Homo sapiens: one gene and its partners. The protein of the gene in region 6 purifies or fractionates together with the protein of the main gene of each other region. This does not show direct contact. Each region holds a gene or a part of one and is shown on either strand. Other genes may lie near its edges. The genes, in order: CAMK2D, ISY1, SMC1A, CLPB, SMC1B, REC8 and SKP2.

The links.
Region 1: the proteins of REC8 (region 6) and CAMK2D purify together in Homo sapiens (co-immunoprecipitation; one large-scale study listed by IntAct). This does not show direct contact.
Region 2: the proteins of REC8 (region 6) and ISY1 purify together in Homo sapiens (affinity purification with mass spectrometry, with the first as the bait; one large-scale study listed by BioGRID). This does not show direct contact.
Region 3: the proteins of REC8 (region 6) and SMC1A purify together in Homo sapiens (affinity purification with mass spectrometry; 2 studies listed by BioGRID and IntAct, with this or other methods). This does not show direct contact.
Region 4: the proteins of REC8 (region 6) and CLPB purify together in Homo sapiens (affinity purification with mass spectrometry; one large-scale study listed by BioGRID and IntAct). This does not show direct contact.
Region 5: the proteins of REC8 (region 6) and SMC1B purify together in Homo sapiens (affinity purification with western blotting, with the first as the bait; one study listed by BioGRID). This does not show direct contact.
Region 7: the proteins of REC8 (region 6) and SKP2 purify together in Homo sapiens (affinity purification with mass spectrometry; one large-scale study listed by BioGRID and IntAct). This does not show direct contact.

Annotation. Positions count from the first base shown.
Region 1 is NC_000004.12:113,751,739-113,755,238, reverse strand, and holds part of CAMK2D (calcium/calmodulin-dependent protein kinase type II subunit delta), read left to right. Parts: intron 1-148; coding exon of another isoform or gene 149-198; exon of another isoform or gene 199-766; intron 767-3,500. UniProt on the Homo sapiens protein: Calcium/calmodulin-dependent protein kinase involved in the regulation of Ca(2+) homeostatis and excitation-contraction coupling (ECC) in heart by targeting ion channels, transporters and accessory proteins involved in Ca(2+) influx into the myocyte, Ca(2+) release from the sarcoplasmic reticulum (SR), SR Ca(2+) uptake and Na(+) and K(+) channel transport.
Region 2 is NC_000003.12:129,137,064-129,140,563, reverse strand, and holds part of ISY1 (pre-mRNA-splicing factor ISY1 homolog), read left to right. Parts: intron 1-78; coding exon 79-196; intron 197-3,367; coding exon of another isoform or gene 3,368-3,433; intron 3,434-3,500. Other genes in the region: ISY1-RAB43 protein, read left to right, coding at 79-196. UniProt on the Homo sapiens protein: Component of the spliceosome C complex required for the selective processing of microRNAs during embryonic stem cell differentiation. Required for the biogenesis of all miRNAs from the pri-miR-17-92 primary transcript except miR-92a.
Region 3 is NC_000023.11:53,373,649-53,377,654, reverse strand, and holds the end of SMC1A (structural maintenance of chromosomes protein 1A), read left to right. Parts: 3' UTR 1-3,506; downstream 3,507-4,006. UniProt on the Homo sapiens protein: Involved in chromosome cohesion during cell cycle and in DNA repair. Central component of cohesin complex. The cohesin complex is required for the cohesion of sister chromatids after DNA replication.
Region 4 is NC_000011.10:72,424,532-72,428,031, forward strand, and holds part of CLPB (mitochondrial disaggregase), read right to left. Parts: intron 1-3,500. UniProt on the Homo sapiens protein: Functions as a regulatory ATPase and participates in secretion/protein trafficking process. Has ATP-dependent protein disaggregase activity and is required to maintain the solubility of key mitochondrial proteins.
Region 5 is NC_000022.11:45,400,100-45,403,599, forward strand, and holds part of SMC1B (structural maintenance of chromosomes protein 1B), read right to left. Parts: intron 2,473-3,500; coding exon 2,234-2,472; intron 1-2,233. UniProt on the Homo sapiens protein: Meiosis-specific component of cohesin complex. Required for the maintenance of meiotic cohesion, but not, or only to a minor extent, for its establishment. Contributes to axial element (AE) formation and the organization of chromatin loops along the AE.
Region 6 is NC_000014.9:24,177,917-24,180,754, forward strand, and holds the end of REC8 (meiotic recombination protein REC8 homolog), read left to right. Parts: coding exon of another isoform or gene 1-24; exon of another isoform or gene 25-174; coding exon 175-306; intron 307-689; coding exon 690-756; intron 757-860; coding exon 861-1,000; intron 1,001-1,168; coding exon 1,169-1,217; intron 1,218-1,480; coding exon 1,481-1,547; intron 1,548-1,678; coding exon 1,679-1,810; intron 1,811-1,883; coding exon 1,884-1,990; coding exon of another isoform or gene 1,991-2,093; coding exon 2,094-2,179; downstream 2,180-2,838. Other genes in the region: IPO4 (importin-4), read right to left, coding at 2,526-2,656, 2,773-2,838. UniProt on the Homo sapiens protein: Required during meiosis for separation of sister chromatids and homologous chromosomes.
Region 7 is NC_000005.10:36,162,111-36,165,610, forward strand, and holds part of SKP2 (S-phase kinase-associated protein 2), read left to right. Parts: intron 1-1,534; coding exon 1,535-1,646; intron 1,647-3,500. UniProt on the Homo sapiens protein: Substrate recognition component of a SCF (SKP1-CUL1-F-box protein) E3 ubiquitin-protein ligase complex which mediates the ubiquitination and subsequent proteasomal degradation of target proteins involved in cell cycle progression, signal transduction and transcription.

The DNA of each region.
Region 1 (3,500 bases), on a different chromosome or scaffold from region 6:
TTAGGCCTCATCTATAAAATCTAAATGTTTTGTGTGTGTGTGTGTGTGTGTGTGTGTGTGTGTGTATCCCTAAGTAACCTTTTTTGATGTTGTAAAAGGGATGTTAAAAACTAATTCTTGCTACTTTTCTTTTATTTTTGGCTTCCAGGCAGTCAAGAAAGTACTGTAATTTCTCAACTTCATGGTTACTTGTCTTGAATTGGAAGTAGAACTGAGACTATGTAGATGGATTAAGTTCTGATTATACATTATTGATTTGGCAAATTGGAACAATTTGGACAAATTAAAATTTGAAGGTTTCTTGGCAAGAACAACATTTTAAGAAAAAAATTAGTAAATCATTTTTATATTTGTACATAGAATCTCCACAACTCTTCAGTTATGGACCCAGAAGTGGCATGTGTCATCCTTATTATTTTGTATCCTTTACTTACGTTTAGTTGTATTTACATTCTTCTATAGGTCTTGATATTAAACATTCATTTTCTTCTTTCATTGAATGAAAGCATTACTGCTCTTCAGAACTAGTTAGGAGACACAAATAATAAAAAAAAAAAGTATATCCACACTTCCAGGAAATAATAGAATTCTTTTCTGTATTTCATTAAATGAAGAAAATAAAGAAAGTGGTTGTCAGGTGCCATACTGTGATATTAATAACTAGTGTAAACCTCTACCTGATTGTGTGAGAACTTTGTTTAGACAATTAGATTAATACTTCTCATTTCCATTGAAATGTTGAATAAACTGAATATAAAAATTAAAATTTAGCAATATGTCACCTTTTATGGATCTTTTTAATGGTAATAATCACGAATTACTAGAAATCTTACATGTACTGGGCTTTTCTTGGGCATCTAACTTTTTTGTTAACTAGAATTTTAATTTATTTTTAAAGTCTTCCTTGGGCTTATACTGAGGTTGACTCATAGTATTTCTAGGGCTGGATTGGTATATTTTTTAACATCAGTCTTCCCCATTTATTAGGGTGTAATGTATGCAGTGTTTTAATAAATCATTGGCAATTAATGATTATATAGAGGCTGTGTTAAAGATTTTAAGTTACAATAGTATTTCTAGTAAACTACACTGCAATGCATTAAATGGAGTATTAGCAATATTTTAACTGTAAAACATATCTTTATATTTCAAATCACTTTATAGATCATTAAGCATATTCACATGTCTTTATGTGTTTATTTAATAAATATTAAATGATTTCAGTGGACAGTGTTAGGAAAAATAAAGGCTATCTACCTAAATAAACATAATAGAAGACATGAATGGCATTACAATTCAAGCATGAATAAAGTACTATGGGCTCTTAAAGGAGGACAAGATTATTTCTGCCCAGGGAGATAAAGAAAGCCTTTCATATAGTATTGATTTAAAGAAATTTTGAAAGCTATAATGTAGATGGGGCTTAAGTACCACCCCCGCCCCCACCCAACCGAAAAAAAAAGTCTAAATAAATGATTTGGGGAAGTTGCTCAAAGTAGTTTAAATATCTGATTATAACAAAATGTTATGTTATTCATATGGTAAATTTGTTGTAATTATCAGTATACAGTTATTTTTAGAATAAAATTATTTTAAATGACGTAGGCTGTTTCTTAAGTGACAAAATTCCTCTAATTCCAGTTGAGAGATTTAGCAATACTTAAGGAGAAATCATAGACCTTTTATCTGCCATAACTTCTCTTACTCTAGCATAGGGAAATTGGTAGGTTTGAAGAGGAGAGAGGGCAGCTTTTTTGTTAAGTTTGTTTGGTTTTGTTTTTAAATCTCTTAGCTATCATTGTAATTACACACAATGACACAATGACATCACTGATTTTTTTAGTTACCTGAGCCCCTTTTCTGGTGTTACAGTCTCATTTTAACTCCTTAGAACTATGTTTATTACTACCAAAATCAATAATGCCATCTTCATCATTAATAATAATTTAGAAAAATATAAATATTAATAGCCATTATTTGAAGAGCCCCTTCTATGAGACAATAAGTATATATTTACAAGATACTTTGTTTTATTTTATTTAATCCACACTGCAGCCTCCTAGAACAATATTATGTCCATTTTAAAAAAGAATACTGAGGCTCTTGTATAAGGCCTCAAAATTAGTAAGTGATAAGAGTCAGGATTTCAATCTGGTTTTCTCTGACTGTAAATTCTGACTCTTTCCACTGTCACCTCCTGTTGATTGCTATTAGAGAGGACTTATCTTAATCTGTCTGTATTTACCTGTGTGTGCTTAACTGATCTTACAAACTTCAGAGTCCTTCATACAAAGCACTATGCCTTACATTTTATCTTCCCATTGCAGTGTGGGGGATTGAGTATTTCTTTGGGAAAATACATTTAGAGTTCCAACCTGTGAGAGAAGATAGTCTTTTAAATGCTACTATAACAAGATCAAAGTGAAGTTTCAGACAGTCCCTCCATGCTGTCTTCTGGAAGGACAACAATATAGTGAAAAATGTTATTATAAAATGGTAGGAAAATGGTTAAAGAGGAGTTCAGTATTTTGGTAAACTTAATTCATTAACTGATTAAAAATATCTCACTATACAGTAAGTTTCTAGGATTACTTCTTCTAAATGATTCAGTTGTCACTGCAAACTAAAACTCAGCCCTTAACCGAAGCCCAGAGAAACCTACTCAGAAAGCTGTTCTACTCTTCTGGTTCATCTTGTTTAACCAGTGAACAATGGAAGACAAATTTTTGTTGTTTTGTAGTTTCCTTTTGAACAACATTGTTGTATGTAGCAAATTCTTACAAAAATGTGGCAATTTAAAGAAAAATATAAAATTGTCAAGTTCTATATTTGTTGAAAAAATAACTTAGGTGCAGCAAGTAGTATAAAGGTACACAAAGTATTGTGATATAATATTTATATACAGTTAATTGTTTTACAATAGGTTTCCTGTTTTCCTTCAGTTACATTGATTACATAGGAATGTTAAAAGTTTTATTGCATAAAATTTGATATATATAATTATATCATATATATTTAATTTTATAACAATAAGCACCCAATAAGCCTCCACTCAATAACTAGAACATTCTCCCTACTTTTGAAGCTACCTGTGTGCTTTTTGTTGATCCCTATCCTTTGTATCTCCCCGAGAGCTAATCACCATCCCTAACTTTTTTAGGAGAGAAACCTCTTTTTATTTCTTCATACCCTGGGGTTTTTTAATTAACTGGCTGATCTCAGTGGGCCAGTCATTCATGGAATAAATATATGTAGCCATTTTCTAGGTAAATTGTATTTTATTTTATTTTGTGTGGTATATGTGTAAACTCATGGAATAAAATACATTACTTCTCATATATTAGTATATAATTTTACCCTCTTAAATATAGGCAATGCTTAATTTATTTGGAATTTGTTTAGTAACAGGAAATTATTTTCTTCCTATGTCTGATAAAATTTTTTTTAAAATTATTTATTTATTTATTTTGAGACAGAGTCTCGCTCTGTCGCCCAAGCTG
Region 2 (3,500 bases), on a different chromosome or scaffold from region 6:
CCGCCTCAAATAAATAAATAAATAATAACTAACTAACTAACTAACAGATCCATTTTCTCTTTTTTTCTTCCCAATAAGAAAGTTGGCCCTAAAATGCTGGATCATGAAGGAAAAGAAGTCCCAGGAAACCGAGGTTACAAGTACTTTGGAGCAGCAAAAGATTTGCCTGGTGTTAGAGAGCTGTTTGAAAAAGAACGTAAGTAAGTTTGTGACAGTTTTAGCCTTTCATTGGTAATAATCATAAGAGTAGATATGCTATATGCTAACTGCTCTTACTTTTTTTTCTTAGTTGCATAACAGCCTTATAGTGTAGGAATTATTGTTCCCAGATTTTAACTGAGAATTCTTAAGAACTGGGATAGAATCATAGGCCCATGCCATACAATTGGGGCTGGAAAGTGTGCCCAGGATTGGCTGGTGCAGGATTCTGCCTTTGGCAGGTGCTAATCTGTCAGTCTGGACAAGGAGTTTCCCTATTTGAAGTTTCCCAGAACGATTGGGGCAGGCTCTGAAGTTCATTGAATCAGGTCATGTTTCAGTTACTTATTAGTTGAACAAATGATAACCAAAGAACAAATACAATCTTGGGCCAAACCCTAAATGTAAAAATGGAGAAAAGTGAGGCCCAGCACTGTGGCTCATGCCTGTAATCCCAGCACTTTGGGAGGCTGAGGTGGGCGGATCACCTGAGGTAGGGAGTTAGAGACCAGCTTGACCAACATGGAGAAACCCCGTCTCCACTAAACATACAAAATTAGCTGGGCATGGTGGTGCATGCCTGTACTCCCAGCTACTCAGGAGACTGAGACAGGAGAATTGCTTGAATCTGAGGGGTGGAGGTTGCGGTGAGCCGAGATCGTGCCATTGCACTCCAGCCTGGACAGCAAGAGCGAAACTCCATCTCAAAAAAAAAAAAGGAGAAAAGTGGAGCTACTTTTGTGTGAATCCAAATAGGGCACACCCACCTTTCCTCCTTCTTTCAGCCAAACCTCCTGAATATAATTTGAAACTGTTAGTCTGGAGTTTTAGTCGGTTTTGATTTTGTGTTTTAGAAAGGTAGTCAACACTTCATAGGAAAAAGTATGAGAGGCAGAGAAGAATGATGCCAGTATTTTCACCATTATTAGCATTTTGTTATATCTCCTTCTAGTTGGCTTTTCTATTTTAAAAAAAATATAGTTCTATTTTTATTAAATGCTGCTTATTTTAAAATTCATTATTCCACAGCTAGTTTTGCATAGGCCACTACCATCCCTTAAAAATAATTCAGAGTTTAAATATTGTGCCATTAATTATGAAGGAATATATTTTTTACTACAGAGGAGTTATAGCCAGGCGCAGTGGCTCATGCCTGTAATCCCAGCACTTTGGGAGCCTGAGGCGGGAGAATCACAAGGTCAGGAGTTCGAGACCAGCCTGGCCAACATGGTGAAACCCTGTCTCTACTAAAAATACAAAAAAAATTAGCTGGGCATATGGCAGGCACCTGTAATCCCAGCTACTCAGGAGGCTGAGGCAGGAGAATCACTTGAACCTGGGAGGCAGAGGTTGCAGTGAGCCGAGATCGTCCCACTGCGCTCCAGCCTGGGCAGCAGAGCAGGACTCCATCTCAAACAAAAAAAAGTTATAAAATACAGAAAATCAGAAAAAAACCACTCACATTTTCACACCTCATATGTGATGATTGTTAATACATTAGGGCATTGTTCCCTCCAGTTTCTTTCTTTCTTTCTTTCTTTTTTTTTTTTTGAGATGGAGTCTTGCTCTGTTGCGCAGGCTGGAGTGTAGTTGTGCAATCTCGGCTCACTGCAACCTCTGCCTCCCGGGTTCAAGTAATTCTCCTGCCTCAGCCTCCCAAGTAGCTGGGACTACAGGCGCATGCCACCATGCCCAGCTAATTTGTATCTTTTTTTTGTTTTTGAGATGGAGTCTCGCTCTGTCACCAAGGCTGGAGTACAGTGGCCCAATCTTGGCTCACTGCAAGCTCCACCTCCTGGGTTCACACCATTCTCCTGCCTCAGCCTCCTGAGTAGCTGGGACTACAGGCATCTGCCACCATGCCCAGCTAATTTTATTTTTTTTTTGTATTTTTAGTAGAGACGGGGTTTCACCGTGTTAGCCAGGATGGTCTCGATCTCCTGACCTCGTGATCCACCTGCCTCAGCTTCCCAAAGTGCTGGGATTACAGGCGTGAGCCACCGTGACCAGTACTAATTTGTATTTTTAGTAGAGACAGGGTTTCACTGTGTTGGTGCCAGGGTGGTCTCGAGCTCTTTTTTTTTTGAGATGGAGTTTTGCTCTGTTGCCCAGGCTGGAGTACAGTGACGCAATCTCGGCTTACTGCTGCAAGCTCTGCCTCCCAGGTTCACGCCATTCTCCTGCCTCAGGCTCCTGAGTAGCTGGTACTATAGGCGCCCGCCACCATGCCCGGCAAAGTTTTTGTGTTTTTTTAGTAGAGACGGGGTTTCACCATGTTAACCAGGATGGTCTCAATCTCCTGACCTTGTGATCCGCCCGCCTTGGTCTCCCAAAATGCTGGGATTACAGGCGTGAGCCACTGTGCCCAGTACTAATTTGTATTTTTAGTGGAGACAGGGTTTCCCTATGTTGGCCAGGGTGGTCTCGAGTTTTTTTTTTTTTTTTTTTTTTGACATGGAGTCTTGCTGTGTTGCCCAGGCTGGAGTGCAGTGATGCGATCTCGGCACACTGCTGTAAGCTCTGCCTCCCGGGTTTACGCCATTCTCCTGCCTCAGCCTCCCGAGTAGCTGGGACTATAGGTGACCGCCACCACGCCCGGCAAAGTTTTTGTATTTTTTTAGTAGAGACGGGGTTTCACCGTGTTAGCCAGGATGGTCTCTATCTCCTGACCTCGTGATCCGCCCGCCTCGGCCTCCCAAAGTGCTGGGATAACATCCCACTGCTCCCGGCCGGTCTCAAACGCTTGATGTCATGATCTGCCCACCTCGGCCTCCCAAAGCGCTAGGATTACAGGAGTGAGCCACCTCGCCTGGCTGTTCCTTCCAGTTTCTAAAGGGTTGTGTTGGGGTGGCTCCTATATTGTGATTATGCTCTATATGTTAGGTTTTTTGCATTTACATTTTTCTAAATATATTTTTGCTTATTCCAGTGATAGAGTTTTGGGTTTTTAAATTTATTTTTCCTTTTTTGTCATCTATTGAAAAGATTTTTGTTTTAGAAAGAAAATGCATAAGTGAATTTTACTGGTTATAATTCAAATAGCACAGATAGAGTTAAAGTCCTCTTACCTCTACACTCATCCCAGTGCCCCTCCTAGAGGTAACTGATAACCATTATTATCTGTTTGGTATGTTCCTTTCCGGCCTTAAAAATTTTTTTATTTTTTTAGGCCAGGTGCGGTGGCTCATGCCTGTAATCCCAGCACTTTGGGAGGCTGAGGCGGGCGGATCACAAGGTCAGGAGATCAAGACCATCCTGGCTAACATGGTGAAACCCCGTCTCTGCTAAAAAAAAATACAAAA
Region 3 (4,006 bases), on a different chromosome or scaffold from region 6:
ACTGAGGCCCAAAAAGGTTTGAACCCAGGTCTTCCAAGTCATTCAAGTGCTTTCTCCACTGTACAGGTGGTTATCAACCTTGGCTGCGCATCAGAATCGTTTGTAAAGCTTTTTCTTTTTCCTTTTTAAAAAGTAAAGCAATATATACACAGGTAAAAAAATAAAATAGTACAGAAGGGCTTATAATGAGAAGCAGCAGTTCCCTGCTTGCACCCCCACATCCAAAGGATGTGGAGCTCTTTAAAAATAAATTGCTCTGGTCCCACCTCTGGAAATCTGATTCAGCCAGCATGGATAATAACCCAGATAACTAACCCCTACCTCACAGGATAAAAAGGATTACATGAGATGCCTTAGGCTAAGGCCCTGGCACACAGGAACACATGTGCTACAAAGGAGCTTTGGGGACTTAAGTCCTGAGGATCCAGGAGGTGAGGTGACTTGTCCAAGATTCCACTGGTTTAGTGGCAGAGCCTAGACTTCCACTCGGATCTATTTAGTGCTTGCCCCCTGCTCTCTCCTGTCGTGCCCCACCACCTCCTGGCATCACAGGGCAACCGTTGTCAAGGCTATGCTCACGGGAGGCTGGGCACCACAGTGTTTCCAAGAGCAAGCTGGATCCGAGTAGATTCCCTAGGGCTTGTTGGAGGAACTAGTTTGACTCCCTTATACTGTGGACGCAGTAGCCTTGCTGTAGGGAGTTGAAGAGTACTCCACAACAGTATCTTAAGTTTAACTGGGCACTTCCCTCTGGAAATCACAGTGTTGTGCACCAGGAACACAAAGATGAGTCAAATCTTTATCCTGCCTTTGAGGAGCTCACTGTTTAGTTGGGGAAACCATTTGTAAAACAGCCATTAACCATACAGTGTGATCAACACTGACAGGAGCACAGGAAAAACATCTAGCTTATGTGAAGATTCAGAGAAGGCATCCTGTAGTCTAGGTGGTGATACCTGAACTGAGTCTTGAGGGACGGGTAGGAATTAGCCAGTTGAGGAAGTAGAAGGAATTTCCAGATATTGGAAACAGTATGCATGAAGACATGAAGGCAAGAAACAGCAAAACAAATACTGAAGCATGAAGATTCCTGGGGTGGGGGGAAAGCAGCAAGAAAAGGTAGAGAGGAACCAGATTGGAAGAGGGTCGTAAATGCATGGCTACAGAATTCAGATTTGTTTTGTAGGACAGTGTGGTTCCCAAACTGGCTGTATACCACAAACAGGTACGGCATTCTGGGCCCCGGCCCCTAAAACATTCATTAAGTCTGGGGTGAAGATTTGGAATCTTGAATGCTTATAAAGGTTACCACATGACTAGGGTACAGCCAGATTTGGAAACCATAGCTTGAAGGCAGTGAGGGAGCCATGAAATGGTTTTTAATAGGGGGACTCCAGATCAGATGTGAACTTAACCTGTTTCTGGCTGGCTAGCCAACCAGCATGGAAAACAGATTAGGTTAGATGTTCATGCTGTATGTGCCCGTGCCTGTAGCTTCCCTGTTAATCAGCTTCTTACACTACTATATTTGCTTATTTTGTCTCTGAATAAGCTTTAGGCACCACAAGGGTGGGCCTGGGGATATTTTGCTTACCAGTATAGCCCCTGCAAAAAAGCACAGTGCCTGACACAAAACAGGCACCCAGTAAAGTTTTTGAATGAATGAATGCATGAGTGAATCCATTTGTGAGAGAGCGAATGGAGATGACAAGATTAGCTAGGAGACTGGAAAAAGACCAGGAGGCCTGCACTAGGGCAAAGGCCAGTAGGAATAGATTGGAGGTGTTAAGGTGTGAACTGTTAAGGTAAGATGATAACTTAATGACTGATTATTGGATGTGGAGGGTGACTGAGAGGATAGAATGAGTACCCATGAATAGCCATGATTCCTACCCTGTCCCAGTCATCTCTTTCCTTATCCATCTCTGAAACAATCTGCTTACATCCTCCTCAGCAACTGGAATTCCTCAAGTTAGTTAGACATTCTGTGTGCTGTGTGGTCTCTCACTGCCCCCCCACTCCCCACCCCTCCACAAGCCATTGATTCATTCATCCAGTTCAATAAATCTTGGCTAAGCACCTCCAGTGTGCAGTAAGGCTCTTCCAAGCCAGGACTCTGACTCCCTCTTTCCTACCTCAAGAGATGTTTTTGAGGGCTTTCCCAGGTAAGAGTCACATCTCTTATACAATAACTTATAGTGAGATACCCAGAATGTCAGACTTGTAAGGGAAGACTGCCCAAACCCCTTCTGAGGTCCTCAGAGGGGAATTAACTTCCTAAGGTCCGACTGCTAGGAAGTGTTGGAGCCAGAAATGGAAGCTAGGTTTCCTTTCTATGTCATCTCTGGAGTCTTGATCTTGATCTATCCCATTGTAGATCAGGACAGGCAGAGGTGGTCAGGGAGAAGGTGGGACTTAGGTTGAACCTTGAAGGTCAATGTATTGGACAGGTCAAACAAGATGGTTGCCAATTACACTGCCCCCTTCTGGAAACCCTTAGCAAACCTGCCATGCTTGCAGTCCCTTCTAAGGGGTTTCCTTAGCATAAGTTGCCATGCTCTGTACCATGTGACCTCACAATCCTGGCCACAGATAGCTAGATGTGGATAGTGTCTGGTTCAAGGGCAACCAATCTCTAGGCTGGCCAGTGGCCTGTTAGCTGGACTGGCATAAGGACTTCACCTTACAGGGGTGGCATGTATCAAATGGCAAATGTATGAAACAACCAGATCTTTCAGGGAGGCAGAATGTGAGCTATTCAGAAGAAGTGAACGTTAATTAGAATTTAATGAGGCATTAGTGGTGGTGGATGAGGGGTGGCCAGAAACTAAACAGCAAAAGCAAAGAGAAAGCTGCAGAAACCATAAGTAAGCAGAGGTCATGAGACATTTGTATAATGAGATCACGGAGCCACAGGGTGGCAGAAGCCATGAAGCAGCAAGGCAACAATGGGCTAGAAGCCATGAAGCAATAGGAGCCACGAGGAACAGAAACCGTGAGACAAAACTGACTATGAGATCCACAAAGCAGCAGAAGGCTTGAATAGATAAGATCATGAGACAGTAGAAGCGATGAGACTGCAAGAACCACAAGGTAGCCAGAACCATGTGGCAACATGGCAACAGGAATGGAAGAGGCAGCAGGAGCTACAATGCAGAAAAGCCATGGATTAATAGGAACTGAAGCGCCGGGAGCCATGAAGCTGCAGGACCCATGAGGCAGAAAAAGCCATGGGCTAGCATCGAGGGGGGCAGAAAGAAGTTAGTCAGTAGCAGTAGGAGGAGTATAAATACAGCCAGAAAGGAGTTGAGTCACCAATTTGGGAAGCACTAGAGAAGGGAGCAACAGATGCCTGCAGCTGAGGGGGTGACAAGATAAGCCAGGCTCTAGAGCTGCTTTGGATCATGAACCATTTTCAAGTTTCTGTTCTTCCATGAGGCTGCCTGTGTAGCTGTTCTTGTCTTCCTTATTTCCCTGTGAATGCTTTAATAAATCCCCATCACTAACCTGTGTGTGTCTTTGTTCCTTGGAATCTAAAAGGTTAACACTGGTGTGCAGTTTAGATAACAGGAAAGCAGGGCAAGAGGTCTTCCTGGTGGGGTTGAAGCAAGACACAGAGGTGGGAATTCACTCATCCTTTCCTGCCTCACTGGCATGGGCACCTTTCATTCACTTACTTATTTTTATCATTCATTCATCCACTCATTTATTTATTACCTTATATATGCACTAACTCACAACTTCACTCACTTATTCATTAATGCATTAATGTAAGCATTTACCAGTTCATTTGCTCTTTCCTGTATTCACTCATGCATCATTTTTCCATCCATTTGTTCAGCAGGCATATGTTAAATTCCTGTCATGTGTCAGGCCCTGTGCTAGGTTCTGGGAATTAGATATACATGCCCTCCAGGAATTCTTGGCTTAATTGGGAACTCAGATAAGTAAGTGGTTAAGCACACTAAGTGTGGAAGATGATATAATGGACGTCTAGGTGAGGCAA
Region 4 (3,500 bases), on a different chromosome or scaffold from region 6:
AGATCACTTGAGGTCAGGGGTTCGAGATCAGTCTAGCCAACATGGTGAAACCCCATTTCTACTTAAAAAAAAAACAAAAATACCCTGGGCGTGGTGGCTCACGCCTGTAATCCCAGCACTTTGGGAGGCCGAGGCGGGCGGATCACGAGGTCAGACCATCCTGGCTAACATGGTGAAACCCTGTCTCTTTGTAAAATACAAAAAATTAGCCGGGCGCGTTGGCGGGCACCTGTAGTCCCAGCTACTCGGGAGGCTGAGGCAGGAGAATGGCATGAACCCGGGTGGCGGAGTTTGCAGTGAGCCGAGATCGCACCACCGCACTCCAACCTGGGGGACAGAATGAGACTCCGTCTCAAAAAAAACAAAACAAAACAAAAAAAAACACAAAAAAAAACTTAGCCAGGTGTGGTGGCATGCACCTCTAATTCCAGCTACTCGGGAAGCTGACGTATGAATATCACTTGAACTCAAGAGGCGCAGGTTGCAGTGAGCCGAGATCGTGCCACTGCACTCCAGCTTGGGTGACGGACTGAGATTCTGTCTCAAAAACAACAAAAAAGTGTCTCTTGTTTTTCCCTTTAAAAACACACTTGCAACTGTTGCTAATCTGGAGCATATATTTATGGCAACTTGAATCTAGACTCTTGGGTTGCAGTCCTCAAACTTGGCCCCAGTAAACTCTTTCTACTAATTTTACAGTTGCATAATTAGTTATCTGACTCCTAGTTAGACTGTGCCAAGAGGGCAGGGACTGTGCCAATCTTGTTCGTTACTGTTAACTGCCACATTCAGCCCAATGCCTAGCTCTGAATATGCACTCGTAAGTATTGGCTGAATGAATTAATCATTTTGTTATTAGTAATAATGACTCTGCCACTCTGTGGGGTTAGTTATTATCATCTTCATGTTAGTTGGAAGGTAGGTAATTTGTTCCTTGTTTCACTGGCTCTCAATGTTTGACTCATGTCCTTCTTCCTCACCAGAGGGCACACGAGCTCCTCTAGGGCAGGGACTGTTTCTCCTTCCTCATTTTGTTGCCACAAATTCAGCTCAGGGCTAGGCACAAAGCACAGGCTGGACAGATGGGCGACTGAGGGACAAACGGAGAGTCAATCAATGTTCTCCACGACCAGGTCGCTACCTGTCTCCAGTCCCTCCTGGCCTCAGACTGTGATCCAGCAACACCGAACAGCAAGTGACTTCCCCTCTGCATACCCCCCAGGCTGCTCCTTGCCTTATGCTACCACATATGCTGCCCTTTTTGCCTGGAATGGCTTCCCCTTCTATTTACAAAGTCCAACTGATATTTTAAGTCTATGATCAGGTGCCATTTCCTCTGGAAGTCTTTCTCAGATCCTCCAGGCTGTTTGTCCTCTGGTCTCCTGCAGCCCCTGTAGTTTCCTGTCTCACAGCACTGACCACCCTATTGCCACAGTTTACCCCGACTCTGTCATCATGGGCAGGAACCATGACTGCTTAAGTGTTCCCTGTGCCAAGCAGAGGACTCAGGATATGGCAGATGCTGTTTGTCAAATGAATAAATAAATCCTGGAGAAAAAGGGCAGGCAGTCTGAGGCCCAAGACTGATCTTGCCAGGCTTCCTTTATTAGAGACTGCTTGGGCTGATGAACAACTGAGGTAAGCACTCAGCAGAGGCCTAGCCCCCTGCTGGGAGAAGGGAGATGGGTAGGGGTGTTGTCTTTCACCCACTTTGTGCTGAAGGAAATGTGATCTCCACCGGGAGAACAGGAGGCCTCACTTTTCCCAGTCCCAGTCCTGACAACTCCTCACATGGCTTGGCCTGAGCCTGGACAGATGTGCCTCTAGTCTGCCTTGTGCCCTAGGTTTCGGGTGAGCAGTTCCTCAGGCTCAAGTTTGGGGTAAGCCCAGGAGCAGGACCACCTGCTCACACTGCTGACAGGTAGGAGGCCAGGCTTCCACTTCTGAGGAACCAGAGATGGATGAACTTAAGTGCCTCAGGGGAGAAGGGAGGAAATGGATGTCACACAGGAAGGGAGGGAGGGAGGGAGCGAGGGAGGGAGGAAAGAGAAGAGACCTGGCCTCCCTCTGATATAGCCAAGGGGAGTGTGAAAGCCTCTGGACTGCTTACTTCAGGTACACTGAAAAGTCAATAAAAAGCAAAGAAAGAGTCACAAAAAACAAGTAAGTGCCGCTGTGCTGTGGAACAGGGTAAAAGACGGTAGAGAACACAACCTTGTCCCTGCCCTTCAGGAGGTGCACAATCCAGCAGTTTCAGATGAAATATAGCCCACAGACTTCTTCATATAAAGAACAGTGTGGCAAGTGGCATTCAGCTCTACTTCTCCAACCTGACCTCCAGCTTCTCTTCCACAAAAGGAGCTCCCTCCTGTGACAAGCTGCCATGGTCCTTTCTAGATCACCCTCATACCCTCCCAGACCAGAAGGCAGGTGTAGGATCAGAGTGGGGGGAAGAGGCAAAGGAAGATGAGATCACACCCAGCTGGGAGGAATCCAAGAAGGCTCTGTAAGGAAAGCAGCACTAGAGCTTTGAAAGGTGTAAGCAGAGGATAATGAATACAGATGGCAGAGGGCCATCTGTGGAGGACCCACATCCAGGGCCCATGGACTGAAGATTCCAGGGTGTCCTTAAAGAGGAGGATCGAATACCTCCCCCTGGGAGCAGAAGAGCATTAGGCTGCTGCCCTTCACTATCCAGAACTTTCCCAAGACTCTGGGGCTAAGGACAGGAGCTGGGGGAGGTCAAGTAGAGGCAGACACAGTACAGAGCCCCAGAGAGGTCAAGTGGGGAAGAAGGGTAAAGCACGACATTATTTACGAGGTCTGAGTTTTGCTCTAAATACTGATATTATTGACCATATCAATCATATACACAGTGACCCAACCATGTGTAACCTACAGTCATGCGCTACACAATGATGTGTTTGTTAACGATAGACTGCATGTATGAGGTGGTCTTATAAGATTATAATGAAGCTGAAAAATTCCTATCCTCTTGTGACGTTGTAACTGTCTCAACATCATAGTGCAACAAATGACCTTTTCTGTATTTAGGTATGTCTAGATACATAAATACTTACCATTATGTTACAATTGCCTACAGTATTCAGGGCAATAACGTGCTATACAGATTCCTAGCCTAGGAGCAACAGGCTATACCATATAGATTAGGTGTGTGGTAGGCTATTACCATTTAGGTTTGGGTAAGTATACTCTATGATGTTCACACTGTGATGAAATTGCACTACTCAGAATGTGTCCCTATTGTTAAGCAAGGCATGACTGTATGTGTAAATTCAAAGAAATAAATGAGTATGGGATTCTGTCCTGCTATAGGCAGGTCTGTTGGGCAGAGCTAAGAGCCCAGGACATTGAAGAAGAAATAAAGAGCAGCATGAACCACCTGTACAGAGTCTAGGGTACAGAAAGGCTGAATAAGGACCTACTGTAGGAATTCCAGAAAGTTTCCTTCTAGCAAGGATGGTCAGGCTCCCTTTACC
Region 5 (3,500 bases), on a different chromosome or scaffold from region 6:
TAGTATACACAGGTATTTCCTAGTTCCAACAGCTGAGAAAGCCTAGAAGCAAGGACACTCCAGTAGCAACGAACACACCTACCACCTAGATGTTGGTTCCTAATACTGTTCTCCGATAAAAGGAACCAGGGTTCCTTGGAGAGCCTGGGGCAGGCTCATACAAGCTGGGGCAAGCTGATGCTTGGACTGGCTTATACAAGATGACAGTAGAAGATACTTATCTTCTAGAAAGTAAGGAAGAGCTCCAAAAAAAAATCACAGTAATGAGAATATTTCAAAGGGACACAGGAGCCAACTCAAAGAGTTCTCAGTGGCCACAGCAGGAACAATCTAAGCAACAAAATCAACAATGTAATACTGGATTATAACTCTAAATGTAAAATATCCATAAATCTATACTGATGTAAACAAATAACAATTAATTTAATTTTAAAATAATTAAGTAGAGACAAATCTGTGCAGAATTCCAAAAAAATCATGTAGATACTTTGCCCTCAAGGTAAAACATAACTCTCCTTACTCCTTAAGTGTGGGCTAAGCATAGTGACTTCCTCTCAAAGATTATAGTATGAAAAGGGAGAAAAAATAACCTCACAGAGGAGAAACATGACAAAAACTACTTCAGTCAGGTGATCAAGGTCAACATCAACAGTGATACCATGTTGATATGACACATGATATAGTACATGATAAATGTCATGTAACATATATAATACACTGACACTCTGATAGAATATAATGAGAAGGACATTTTACTTCTGTGGGCTTCCTCCCCACAGTCTGTATCTTCAGTCTAATTATGTGAAAACCATCAGACAAATCCGGATTGAAAGATGTTCTATAAAAAAACTGACCAATATTCCTCAAAATTGTCAAGTTCATCAAAAACAAGAACTGTCACAGCTAAAAGGTGCCTAAGGAGACATATAACTAAATGTAATATGGTATTCTGGATCATAAAAAGGACATTAGGCAAAAGCTGAGAAAATATGTATAAAGTATGGACTTTAGTTAATGTATCAATATTAGTTTATTAATTCTGACAATGTATCATAATAATGTAAGATATTAATAATAGGAGAAACTGAGTGTTGGGAATATGGGACTGATACAGGGGCTAAAAATAAATTATTTAGGCAGATAGTGAAGGTTAAGAGAGTCCTCAGCAGAGCTTCCCTTTTAACGAAAAGCAGCCCCAAAATCATTTCTTTTCTAACAAAGAGGAGCCTGAAAAATTAGGCTACAAATGGGGTACATAAGCAAGCTGGAAGCTTACACGAGTGAATGCCGGCAGCTGAGCCAATAGAAAAGGGGTACTCAGAAGCCAGCTATGTTCAACATGAAGGCTCCATCTTCCCTTTTCTTTGTCACCACGTGTACAGTAGAAAAGCTGGCAAACATGGCGCCAGCCAGGTACAGAATCTGCATAATAAAAAATTAGGGTGGGATGGCCAGCTTCTTTGTGCACTATGCAAATGGCACATCTAGTCCTAAGCGGTTCTTCACGTGCTATGCAAATGGAATACCTGATCTGAACAACCCTTCATGCCCTAAATCAGACACCGCCTCCTCAAGCTCATCTATAAAACCGCCTGTACTTCACTGTGGACCAGAAGACCCAATTGGGAGCCCCTCTCTCTGCATGAGAAAGCTTTTCTCTTTCTTTCACCTATTAAACCCACTCTTAACCTCACTCCTTGTGTGTCTGCATCCTTGATTTCCTTGCTGTGAGGCAATGAACCTCGGGTATTACCCCAAACACCACCACTTCAGGACCATTCTACACCACCTTTTTTTTTTTTGAGATGGAGTCTCACGCTGTTGCCCAGGCTGGAGTGTAGTGGCGTGATCTCGGCTCACTGCAAGCTCCACCTCCCAGGTTCATGCCATTCTCCTGCCTCAGCCTCCCGAGTAGGTGGGACTACAGGTGCCTGCCACCATGCCCAGCTAATTTTTTGTATTTTTAGTAGAGACGGGGTTTCACCGTGTTAGCCAGGATGGTCTCGATCTCCTTACCTCGTGATCCACCTGCCTCAGCCTCCCAAAGTGCTGGGATTACAGGCATGAGCCACCACACCTGGCCTATACTATCTTTATAATTTTTCTGTATATCTAAAAGTATTCCAAAGTAAAAAGCTTATTTTTAAAATCAATTTTCAAAGTGTCACTTATATTATTCCCTCTATCAAGCTACATATAACCCAACTGTTAATATCTACTTTTAAAAACTCACTTTAATTCTTTTTCTGTTTGTTGTAGTTGTCTAGTTAGCATTCCATGTTCCTTTTTCCTGGCTTTAACTATGTTTTCATGATGAGACAAAGACTCTCTTTTGACACTCAAATCCCTATTCACATGCTCTAACTTGGTGTTCAGGAGATGAATCTTTTTCTCATTATGGTATAGTTGAAAAAGCTGCAGTTGTATCTTGTTCATTTTCAGTTCTTCAAGGAGACTCTGGTAACGTTCTGCCTATAAAAGAGTATAATTCAACAGCAGTTAAAAGGGAGTGTATTTAAGTTGGCCTTTCATAAACTCAACTACTATACCAACAAATTAACTAATGAATGTTTATTTATTAGGACATAATGTTCTTGCCAAAAGTAGCATAATTTGGCGAGGGTTTCTGAATATACTTTTTAAATAACCCAATACACCAGCAAATGATTTTGTGTTCTTGCGCTCAGTGGTATGATGATGAGAACAAAGAAGTGGCATGCATTAGCCTGGGTCCCTTTTGTCTGGACCTGTGAGTTTCACAACTCAATCAGTATTTCTGGCATCAGCTTCCTCCTTTGTAAACTGAAAGAAGAGTGTGATATGACTTATAAGGTGCTAGTAACTTTAAATTCAATGACTCCAGGAAAAATTCCTACTACAGGAAGTAGTTTTTCTACCGATAAAACAGGACTCTTACAGTGCTAAATTATATGTGAAAAATAATAATTTCCTTAACATTTGTGCTATTAAAGAAATAAAGGAACAGGCTACCTCAAGAGGAGCTCCTAATCAATATTGGAAGTATTCAAAGTAACAGGCTATCCACTAGGATGTTGTAAAAAACAATTAGGAAGTTGTTTCGTTCTAACTGTCCTTAAAATGTTTAAATTTTGCAGTTCAGTATATTGTGATTATTATAGTCTGACTTCCACTGCTGCCACTCCTTTCCACTAACAAAACCAAGGACATGTATACATATTAGAAAACATGAAGACACAGAGAAACATCACTAATAAGAAACATCCACTTTCCATTTACTTCTTCAAATATGTATTGAGTATCTACTATGAGCCAGGTGCTGGTCTATGCATTGAGAATATAGCAGAAAATAAGACAGACTATCCCTGATCCTGTTTGTTTGTTTGTTTGTTTGAAACAGAGTTTTGCTCTCTCACCCAGGCTGGAATGCAATGGCACGATCACAGCTCACTGTAGCCTCGACCTCCTGGGCCCAAGAGATCCTTCTGTGTCAGCCTCCTGAGTGGCTGGAAAGACAGGCG
Region 6 (2,838 bases):
CCCAGATGGGTACCCTTATGCAAGGTATGAGCTGCTCAAGTGCATGGAGACCCCGCACAAGCCCTCTCCAGGTTCCTCTAGGGGCGGGTGTGGGGTCCTGTTAGCAGTCCACCAGAATGACAGGAAAAGGAGTAATGGGCAGCCTTGCCCCTACCTGCCCTCCCCACTCAACAGAGGAGGCCCCCAGTCCCCCCACCTCCTCGCCGCCGCCGTCGTCGCCGGTTACTGTTCTGGGACAAGGAGACTCAGATCTCCCCGGAGAAATTCCAGGAACAACTGCAAACCAGAGCCCACTGCTGGGAATGTGTGAGTGCAGCCCAGGCTTTGCCGGGGAAGGGAGGGAGGCAGGGATGACCAGGGGCACATGCAGGCTGAGCCTTCCAAACTCCTCAGGTGGGTGGGGGGAGGATTGGGAACTTGATGAAAAATCTCCTCCATTCTCCAGAAAATGCAGGCGATGTGGGTTTGCACATATACAACTCTTCATGCTCCTTTAGTGACCCACCTGTCATACCCATGGGCACCAGGTTAAAAAGTCCTTCTTTTAGCAATGAGCAGGGCAGGCAGGGTCATGAGCGCAAAAGCTGGGGAAGTCCAGAAGCCCCAGAACAGTGCATTGCAAAGAGGCAAAGGGGCCCTGAGGAGTGGCTGCTTTATAATGGGGCTTCTGACCTTCCCCCACTACACAGCCTATGGTGCAGCCGCCCGAGAGGACCATCAGAGGCCCTGCGGAGTTGTTCAGAACCCCAACTCTCTGTAAGAATGGTGGGGGTTGGGCACGAAGTATCCTCAAAACCAATTCCTCATTCCTGGTGCTCCTCACGCCTCAAACCCCGTGCCTACTACCCTCTTGTCCACAGCTGGCTGGCTACCCCCTGAACTACTGGGTCTCTGGACCCATTGTGCCCAGCCACCCCCAAAAGCCCTCAGGCGAGAGCTGCCTGAGGAGGCAGCCGCTGAGGAGGAAAGGAGAAAGATTGAAGTTCCAAGTGAGATTGAGGTAACTGCACCACCTGTTTACTGCATCGCCCCAGTGCCAGGGTCTGCCTGACCAGCTGGCTGCCCTCTCCTGCTATGAGAGCCAACAGCACAGGCTCACTGGCCTTGTGCCTTCTGAGGCCCAAGTCCCAGATGCTTGGGGTCTTAGTTCTACTTCTCCCATCCCCAGGTCCCGAGGGAGGCCCTGGAGCCCAGTGTTCCCCTTATGGTGTCTTTAGGTAAGCACCTAGAGAAGAGGCGCAGTGGGACCACACCCTAACCACTGTCCCAGGAAACTAGTATCCCAACTGCTGAAGCTGTTTTATGAGTGAAGGCGTGTGTGTGTGACATAAGGAAGCACGGACTGGTCCTCCTCAGCTCTCCCACCTATGTGCTTTTAACAAGTCACCGCACGGCTCTGCCATCTACTTACACCAGGTGGCCACAAGGCCCTAACTGCCACCCAAGCAGACACCCACTAGCGCCTTTCCTCCCCCAACAGAGATCTCCCTAGAGGCAGCTGAAGAGGAGAAGTCCCGCATCAGCCTCATCCCACCAGAAGAACGGTGGTAAGCGGCCAGGCTCCGTGGGAGCCAGGGCCCACAGCCCTTGGCCAGGTGGTGGAAACAGCTGCTGGGATGGGTATGCCCCTTGTCACTGTCACAGCTGCCACCTTCCCTACTCTCTCATGTCCTCCTAGGGCCTGGCCTGAGGTGGAGGCGCCAGAAGCTCCTGCATTGCCCGTGGTGCCTGAACTCCCTGAGGTGCCCATGGAGATGCCTTTGGTGCTGCCCCCAGAGCTCGAGCTGCTCTCACTGGAAGCAGTGCACAGGTACCAGGGAGGTGGCACCTTGATGGGGTGGACCCGGGCTGAAGCCTCTGCTAATGGTTCTTGATCCCTATAGGGCAGTGGCACTGGAGCTGCAGGCTAACAGGGAGCCCGACTTCAGCAGCCTGGTGTCACCTCTCAGCCCCCGCAGGATGGCTGCCCGGGTCTTCTACCTGCTCCTGGGTGAGTGTATGCATGTGTGTGTGTGTATGTGGGGCAGGGACACAGAGACCAGAGGCCCGTACAGGGACTCCCCCGACCTGCCCTCTCCTCGCCTCTTGACCAGTGCTCTCAGCGCAACAGATTCTTCACGTGAAACAAGAAAAGCCATATGGTCGCCTCCTGATCCAGCCGGGGCCCAGATTCCACTGAGGTTAGAGTCCATTTACAAAGCTGCCAGGAAACCGGCCACTTCTAGTAAACCACGTCGTGCCTCACTGGGTCCTGCTTACCTCATTTCTGAATGTGCATTTCCAGCCTTCTTGCTCTCAGAGCTATTGTTCAAGCAGAAAACAAGCTGCTTTTATTACAGTATGATGTCATGACTCATTTGTAACAGATCCAGCCTCAGGGACAGCCCTGTAAGGCAGCAAGTGGGGCTGGCTCCAAATGGGTATGAGTCTCAGAATCTTTGGTAAGGCAGAACTGAACTGGGCTGAGAGGTGGTCTTAAGGCCTGGGCAGGCTCTATTCTCTCTGGACTGGCTGCAGCCTGCAGTCTAGGAGAGGCCCAGTACAGCCTGGAGCTCCTGAGCCTTGTCAACAGGCAGTGAGCCCAGAGCTGCTTGAAAGCTGTCGGTGTGCTGTTTGGCCAGGAACGTCAGGAGCAGCAACAGTGCGGCCTTGGTGTCTGGGTGGAGAGGGAGGGAGAAAGGTCGGGGCTCCTAAAGCCTCGCTGCCCCAGGCTCTCTGAGCCCTGCCACTCCCAGCCTCCCGCAAGCCCCTGCCTATGACTCCTACCCTCACCTGGTGGGATCTTGTTGTCAGCCAGAATGAGGCTGCAGATACGCAGAAGCTCGGGAGCCACATCTA
Region 7 (3,500 bases), on a different chromosome or scaffold from region 6:
CTTTTTGAACTTACGTGAGGGCCTGTCATTCCTGTGCTCAGAATCTTCTAGTGGTGCCTCATAGAATTCAGCGTCAAAGCCAAAGGCTTTATCATGACCTAGGAAGCCTGCATGACCTGGCTGCTCTCTGATTTTTCTACCCACCTACCTCTGCGCTCTACACTGGCCTCCTTGCTATGCCTCAAACACACATGCTGTTCCTTGGATCTAGAACACGTACACCAGATACTCACAGGGCTCACTCCCTCACTTTGTTCAAGCCTTTGCTTAGTGATCGTCATCTCAGTATGGCCTTCCCTGACCACCATGTTCAAACTTAATAACATCTGCTCTGAACTCTCTGTTCTCTCCCTTGCCCTGTTTAATTTTTCTGCACAGCACAGATCAATTTTACTATATCATATAATGTACTTATTTTTTGATGTGTGATTATCTGTTCCGCATTACTGGAATGAAGTCCCACGAAGGTAGTGTTTTGGGTCTGATTTACTACTCCTTCCCAACACCTAAAATGATACCTGGCACCATAGTAGGAGCTCAGTAAATATTTGTTGAATTAAGAAATGACAATACCCTTTTGTATTGCTCTTTTAGGTAAACTGTGCCTTTTGTAAACCTGAAAGAAAGCATATTAGTCTGTTCTCATGTTGTTAATAAAGACATACCCAAGACTGGGTAATTCATAAAGGAAAGAGGTTTAATTGACTCACAGTTCAGCCTGGCTGGGGAGGCCTCAGGAAACGTACAAGCTTGGTGGAAGGGGAAGCAAACGTCCTTCTCCACATGGCGGCATCAAGTGCAGAGCAAAGGGGTCGGGGAAGCCACTTGTAAAACCATAAGATCTTGTGGGAACTCACTTATCACCAGAACAGCATCAAATTACAGGGGCGGTTATCACCAGGTAACCGTCCCCATGATTTGATTACCTCCCACTGGGTCCCTCCCGCAACACATGGGGATTATGGGAACTACAATTCAAGATGAGATTTGGGTGGGGACACAGCCAACCATAGCAGAAAGGGAAGAAGATTTATTTGCCTTTTAAATAAGGTCACTACTGAGTCCACATCAGAGAGAAACAAGGCCTTCCTTTGCACCCAGAAGCACCACAATATCTTATTGATGTCAATGAATTGACAATGTCATTGAATGACATTTGAGAGGGTGGGACTTGCTCTGTACCACTCTTCATGCCACAGCCTCCGATTGGCTGGCTAGAGCTGAAGGGAAGAATAGGAAAAGTGTTCTGGGTTTCTCTTTTTGATTTGCTGAGAGAGTGTGGTGGTCACTTCAGGGTACATAGATGATGGAATGGGGAATTTAACACGAATTAAATTACTCATCACCACAATTATTTTTCTGTTCAACAGAAATGATTTTTCAAACAAAAATAATTGTGAGGATGAGTAATTTAATTTGTGCTAAATTCCTCATTTAAGCTAAATGTTGTATATTCTTTATGTGTTTGAAAAGACTCAGTAGACTTGATAGGGTGAAAGAATGGTGATGGCAAACACTTGTTTTCCCTCCAAAGGTGTTTCATGGGACTCCCTTCCGGATGAGCTGCTCTTGGGAATCTTTTCCTGTCTGTGCCTCCCTGAGCTGCTAAAGGTCTCTGGTGTTTGTAAGAGGTGGTATCGCCTAGCGTAAGTATTTTTCACCCCTTTGGCAAACGTAGGGGAGGAAGAGGAGAGGAAGGTTATTTATTCGTTTTGGTCTGATGAAACTAAAAACCAAGAAAAATAGAGCAGCGCAAAGCAAACTAGGTATCTTCATATTTTTATTAATCAGTGTCCTCATTTCACAGTGGAAGAGGAATTTCCTGGGAGGGATAAACTTACCAATGTCTGGAAACCTCTTTGCCCTGTATTCAGTGCAGCATGTGTTTATGGGATGCTGACTGTAGGCCAGGCGGTGTGCTTTAAGTGCGGAGAGAGTTACAGAGGTGCATGCAGACAGCGGTTCCTCACGCCGCTGGGCTGAGCAGTGAGCACAATAGGGAGAGGGAACACAGGCTTGGTGTTAGACCCGAGTGCACACCCAGCCTCTGCTGCTTACGCTCTGCATGACCTGAGTGAGTTAGTTGACACTGCTGAGCCTCAGTCTCCCCATATGTAAATGGGGATAATGGTTATGAGGAGGAAACCACTGGTTATGAGGATGAAATGTGAAGATGCTGGTGTAATGCCTGACTCACAGACATGTTCCACACAGAGTAGCCATTGGTGGGGTTGTGCTCTTTTTTTGGCAACACTTTTCAAGTGTGGAAGGTGAGTTGCATGTGGAAAGACTTGGTGAGCTGGAAAGGCAATAACAGGCCTGGAGCAAGAAAAAGGCTATGTTTATCAACTGGAACTTTTTACTATCTTCATGCCTTCTCATCCCTATCCTACCTCCTGGTCATTCTTTGCTTTGTGTTTAAAGGCCATCCGTCTGGCTTCTCCCTCCACATACTTAGAACTCCCTGTGTGAGATAGCAGGAGCCTCTTGCCTTCAAGGGCGTGCTGCTATTTACAGGTGTGGGTTGTTTGCTTAGAAGAGCCGCAGAGAGGGTTGCACACCTGGAATGCTGGTGCAAGTGGCAGGCAAGTTTCACTTACCCTCACCGCACTCAACCCCACTTTGGTTTTCTTTTTCTGCCAGCTATGCATTTATCCTCTTCTTGCAGAGTCTGTTAATCCCATTTTAAAATTTTATTGTATATATTTAAGGTATACAGCATGATATTTTGTTATAAGTATGTGAAATGGCTGCTATCATTAACATATTCATTATCTCACATAGTTACCTATTTTTTGTGGCAAAAGCACCTAAAATTTACTCTTTTAGCAAACATTCTGACTACAATACAGTATTATCGACTCTAGTTCTCCTGTTGTATACTATATCTTGGGATGTGTTCATCCTGCATATCTGTGGCTTTGTATTCTTTGACCTACATCTCCCTTAGAGTCTGTTAAACTTCATCTCAGTTGTCATAAAAGTAATTACTGACATTTATTAAGCACTTGCTTTGTGACAGGTGCAGTGTTTGCAATTTAATCCTCCATATGATTTTAAGTGATGGTGTTTGTGTCATCTCAGCTTCAGAGGTGAGGAAACTGCAGGGTCAGGAATAGTAGGTTGAGAGATAAGTGGAAAGGCAGGAATCTAAAGTTTGGCTAACTCCACGGTCTTAACCATCATACCATATCTAGTTATGCTTGGCTTAGGGTTCAGGTAGCTCCCAAATTCATTTTTCTGTGAGGTGTTCATCTTCCTAAAAAATGTATATTATTTGGAAAGAAAATGAATTGTTCCAAAACTTCTCCCAGGTTGTTGTTATTGAATGCTGGTTAAGCTATAGTTTGCCTTCTTGCAAGAGGAAACATCAAGCATGAGATTCAAGACAACCAGAGCAGTGCTGATCTGGTGTCAATACCAATACCTTGGAGGCCAAAATGGATTTCTGTCTGGGCAAGAAAGATACAAAAGTGTGCCACTCTCTTAAGGATATCTTA